Regions from separate parts of the Homo sapiens genome. Here region 2 is linked to region 1. The links come from fine-mapping of genetic effects on gene expression. Tissue or cell type: monocytes. Region 1 holds a variant in brackets; the other region holds the start of a gene. All regions are shown on one strand. Distances are from middle to middle.

Evidence for each region. PIP is the estimated chance that this variant, and not a neighbour inherited with it, causes the effect.
Region 2: it holds the start of VKORC1L1, and the variant in region 1 is fine-mapped to the expression of VKORC1L1 in monocytes (Kim-Hellmuth 2017, PIP 0.94).

What each region holds. Positions count from the first base shown.
Region 1 is chr7:65,621,505-65,624,267 of GRCh38, reverse strand. No RefSeq gene overlaps it. Among named protein-coding and RNA genes, the nearest start is that of SNORA22, 130 kb to the left of the region's middle. The variant A/TGTGTATGA (reference allele first, on the strand shown) is at 1,426.
Region 2 is chr7:65,871,907-65,874,669 of GRCh38, reverse strand. It overlaps VKORC1L1 (vitamin K epoxide reductase complex subunit 1L1), which reads right to left and starts at 1,596. Exons shown (of 3, transcript NM_173517.6): 1 at 1,105-1,596. The coding sequence starts at 1,298. RefSeq lists enhancers at 95-646, 1,198-1,749 and silencers at 815-884, 1,432-1,611, 1,325-1,824, 1,845-1,904.

The sequences.
Region 1 (2,763 bases):
CTTTCAGAACTCAGCAGCTCTCAGAAGCAATAATAACTACATAAATAGCTAAGTGGATGGTAGGAATTACCTCACTTGGAATTTGGCCAGCAAATCAAAAGTTAGCAGTAATATCACATCTTTTTGAAAGCTTTCCTGAGATTCTAGAGGGGAAAATTATCAAAGAAAACTGTTTCTACTGAGTAAATTTCAGGAAGAAATGCTCCTCACTGCTTGAAGATGTTCTATCTCTGGAAAACTGCTAAGACAGAAGTCCCTCCCTGCTGGGAAGCACTCTCTCATCCATGTAAATACATTGCCAATTTTGCCCCCAATGGTAGCAAATAATTACGTTCGCAGATCACCATTGCCTAATGTAAAATGTTACTCAACACGTATAACCTAACCTACCAATGATGTTCTGAATGAGCAAAAAGGGCGTCATGGATATCTCACTTTCAGAGAGTGTCTTAACTTTTTGACTCATTGCAGGTAGTTAAAATGTAAACTTTTTACGGCCACATTTTAAAGCACTTTGCAAACGCTGGACACCTCTACTCGTGAATATCCTGTAAATTTTTCCTTTCAAGTACATTTGACCACTAACATGCCAGATCATCTTCCCTTCTCCCCTAAAACAGAAATGAAAACTGGGTAAAATGGTAATTTGGGGGACAAATATCTTCTCTCATCATCTGAAAACTGTCATATGTTGCTTTTTAAAAAAATTAAATTAGTGTTATTTGTTTTCCACCCAGAGACAAGTTATTTTGGTATCACCCACAATGGAATTTGCATGAAAATCTGTTTACTGACCCAGTTCCCTAGGGGTGCATTTGCCCTAGCACTTGGAGTAAACACCATTTTCACTGCACTAGAAATAGTTCTAATTGGACAAATTGTTATAATTTTAGCAACACCCAATTAAATCAAAGGAATTGGAGGCAGAGATGCCACAGAATCTGGATTCGGCCACAAACCAGTTCAGTATTTGTGCCTGAAATAAAAGTCTAATCATATACCATCTACAGATGCTAAAGGAACAGCTACATACCTCGGCTGAACTTAGAAAATATGATTTTTTTTATTGTACTTTAAGCTCTGGGATGCATGTGCAGAACGTGCAGGTTTGTTACATAGGTACACATGTGCCATGGTGGTTTGCTGCGCCCATCAACCCATCGTCTAGGTTTTAAGCCCCGCATGCATTAGGTATTTGGCCTAATTTTCACTCTCCTTTTGCCCTCAACCCCCTGACAGGTCCCACTTGTGATGTTCCCCTCCCTGTGTCCATATGTTCTCATTGTTCAACTCCCACTTACGAGTTAAAAAAAAAAAAGAAAGAAAATATGAGTTTGGAGAAACTGGTTATTCTGAAAACAGCCTATTAAAAAGTTATGTGACTGGTTAACAGTGTGTGTGTGTGTGTGTGTGTGTGTGTGTGTG[A/TGTGTATGA]GTCCATCCATTTCATTAACTGGGGTATTTTCACCAATACAGTCTAAATAACAGGAAATGAATTTAAAGAGAATCAAACAATAACATTCAGAACTCAAAGTTAAGCATAGTGTAAAATATATCTCAGTGGAAAGCATGTAAGTGTCTTAACTCTCCTTCCAAACCCATCTATAAATTGCCACTTTGTATTTTCCATTCATGTATCCTCCTCTCCAAGAAGCTGGACCTTTTTACTGCTGTTCACGCACCTACACATCACGTCCTACTCCATGCCTTTGTCCTGCTGACTCCCCATTTCTTCTCATCTTGGATGTCTTTCCCAAATCCTTCTTGTCATCAAACACTCATCTCCTCCACAGAGCTTTGGATTTTACAATGTGAACTTACATACATTTTCTGAACTTCCCTAATTATCTATATCCAAATTTAGCATTTAATCATAGAACTTTCCTCTCTGATTAAGTATATGTTTGTGTGTACCTTTTTATCCCCCAACCAAATCACATGATTTAAAGGTAACATTGGTCTTTAATGCCTCTCCTTAAAGTTTCCATCAAGATCCTACTCTGCATTTATTCTCTTTCACTAGTTATCCCTTCTCTTTTTTTTGAAAACATGCTTAAACGTGCCCTATCCTAAAGAAATCTCCAATTCTTTCTCAAGCTCTCCCACCATATCTACTTTCTTTCTCTCAAAACTTCTTTAAACAGCATCCCTTCCTCCACTTCTATTCTGTTCTCTCTCAACCCCTCTAATTTGGTTACCCAGGCACACCCTTATCTCTCAGCTGCAAGTCCCTGCAGCACTGAAACCTCACGCACCTGTCTTTCTCCTGGAGACTGAGACAACCTTGACTCCCGGTTCATCTCCTTCCCCCAAGCCCAGCATTCTCAGTGTCCTTTCCTGGTTCCTGCCCTTGAATTCTCAGTCATCACTCCTCATCTTTTCTCAGTCTCCCATGGCAATTGCATTTCTGCTTTTGTCTTTAACTTCAAAATCTCCAAGACTTCCTAATCTCAAATTTTAGTGAACTGTCTGTGGGGTCCCAGACCTTATGCTGCCACCTGCTGGCCAGTTTCACGGGGCTATCTCAGAACAAAATTCAAGTTTATTCCCAAACACCTAACCATTCTATTTATTTTATTTTTCCTCTGTTAACTAATTACATCACCATTTTCCTAGACCTCCCCGATAGAGGTTTAACATCAGCATCCTCCATGATTTAACGATCTTCGCCCCAGCATCAACCACTCAGCTGGTTGTTATATAAATACAACACTATATAGCGTTAGATAAACATAACACTACCTACCAGAGCGTCTGTCCTGTGTGTTACAT
Region 2 (2,763 bases), 250 kb before region 1:
CACACCCAGCTAATTTTTGTATTTTTGGTAGAGACGGGGTTTCACCATGTTGGCCAGGCTGGTCTTGAACTCCTGACCTCATGATCCACCCGCCTCGGCCTCCCAAAGTGCTGGGATTACAGGCGTGAGCCACTGTGCCCGGCCAAGAAAAGTCAATTTTAAGCACTTAAGCAGGCCAGGCGCGGTGGCTCATGCTTGATTCCCAGCACTTTGGAAGGCAGAGGTGGGTGGATTACCTGAGGTCAGGAGTTCGAGACCAGCCTGACCAATATGCTGGTCTCGAATATGCTAATAGGCAACAACGTTTAAAAGTCATTCCAATGCCTAAAACACCACCATATACATAACATACTTGTCCTTTACTCCAATGAAGCTTAAACTAGACCCAAACTCAGACCATTTCCTTCTCCTGGCACACTGAAACATACGAGAGGGAATCCAAGAAATCAGATATGTTAAGTGCGGGTATCTTCTTCCACAGTAGGGTCAAATTCGTGTTTGCCAGCAAATGTCACCGTCCCAGTTAAGTCTGCAAATTCTCACTAGCGCTGGAGTACAAAGAGGCCTGACCACGGAAACACCTGTCCTAGCACCAGGAAGACAGTGGGAAAGGCAACCCCCCTGTCTCCGCGCCGGCCCCAAAGCCTCGGCTGCAGCGATCGGGGGGACAAGAGGTTGCCGCTGGTCTCAAGGGTGCGGTGGACAAGGTCCCACACCCCCGGCCCGCCTCCCGAGAACCAGGAAACCTGTCAAGCCAGCCTGGACCCACCCTCCGCAGCCCCCTCGCGCTCCTGCACAGCCGGGCCCCAGCCCGCCCGACCGCTCCGCGTCCGCCCCGGCCTCCCGGCTGCACTCTGCCACCTCATCCCTCCCCGGCTGCCTCGCGGCCCCGCCACCTCCGCCCCGCGGCCTGGGCTCAGGCCGCCCCCCGGGCAGGAGCGCCCCGCCGCCGCCCCCCGCCTGGCCCCGACCCGACCCCGTCAGTTCCCCAGCGGCCCGGTCCCCGCCGCCCCCAGGCCTGAGCTCCCGCCGCGCGCTCCCCACCCCGAGACTCCACCCTCGCCCCGCTCGGCCGCTCCTGGCCCACTCCCCCAAGCCGGCTACCTGGAGGCAAGGGCGGCGGAGCACTTCACCCAGGGCCCCAGGTCGCAGAGGGCCCGGTGCTCGGGGTCCCGCTCCTTCTCCCGCTCCACGTGGTAGGCGTAGATGGAGAGCAGGATTCCGGCAGCGCACACTGCATACCGGGCCACCCGCTCCCACCGCGGCACCGACACTCTTAGCAGGACGGGAGCCGCCATCTTCCCGCCGCCGCCGCCGCCGCCTCCCTCCGCCTCCACCTCAGCCGCCGCCGCCCGTCGGGGCCCGACCCAGCCGCCACCGCCGCCACCGCCGCCTCCGCCGCCGCCGCCACCACCGCCGCCGCCGCCGCCGCGCCCCATTGGCTCGGTGGCCTGCTCCGGGCCCCGCCCCCACAGGCGCGCGGCCCAACCGCCCCAAAAGGAGTGAGGCGGACGGGGCGGGGAAGGCGCGCGCGGGCGCGGAGGGAGGGGGTGGAGTGCGCAACGGCCGAAGAGGCCGGATCGGCGGGCGGAGACTGAGGCGGCGTGGCGCTGCGCCGCGCGGCCGGTCGCGCGCGAGGGGTGGAGCCCGGGGGAGAAAGGGGTGGGGCAGGGGTGGGGATGGGCGGGGCAGGGGTGGGGAGGGGCGGAGCCAGAGAGGGGCGGGGCCGAGCGGGCCAGTGCGGGAGGGACTTAAAGGAGCGGTCTAACTAGCACATTGCAAGGATGCCACTGTGGGTGACTGGGCGAACCCTCGGCCCCTCCCTCTGGGGATGGCAATCAATTGCCATCCTTTTTCCCTTTTTCGTTGTATATTTCTGACCCAATCCAAATCAACCCTGGCCAATGCTTGGAGCTCCAGAGACCCACACCTATGACCTGATCTTCCCACCACCACCTTCGGTTAGACCTGTGCAAAACTTTTTTTTTAATGTGCAAAACTATGTTTTAAATTTAAAAACTATTTTTAAAAAATGATTTATGGACCGGGTACAGTGGCTTACACCCGTAATCCCAACACTTTGGGAGGCCGAGGCAGGTGGATCACTTGAGGTCAGGAGTTCGAGACCAGCCTGGCCTACATGGCGTAACCGCGTCTCTACTAAAAATACAAAAAACAAACAAAAACAAATTAGCCCGGTGTCGTGGTGGGCGCCTGTAATCCCAGCTACTCGGGAGACTGAGGCATGAGAATTGCCGGAACCCGGGAGGTGGAGGTTGCAGTGAGCCAAGATCGTGCCACTGCACTCCAGCCTGGGCGATAGAGTAAGAGTCTCAAAAAAAAAAAGAGAGATTTACGAATGCCTTGCTTTTCCGTAAGCTGAATTTGAAGTTGCTTACCATAACTCATATAATATAGAAAAATAAAGATGAGCTAATACAATCAGGACGAAGAAAAAGAAAAGTCAGAATAAAATGAAAGGCCAGGAATAAGAACACAGATAAGCAGGCCATAGGGGCTTACATAGTTATTAAAATTGCATCATAAATTTGGCTCTGAGCTTCCTGGTGGCCAAAACTAAAAGGAAAACAGATGTATGTGCTTTTTCTCACTGTCTTTAAGAAGAAACACAGGGTTCTTGGAGATTTTCAGTGTTTCCCTGGTTGCAGCTTTCAATTTTTCAGGGGCTTTATATAGTGATTTTGAATAATAAGCAATATCCTTGTATTCGTTATCTATTGTTGGGTAAAAATCACCCCAAAT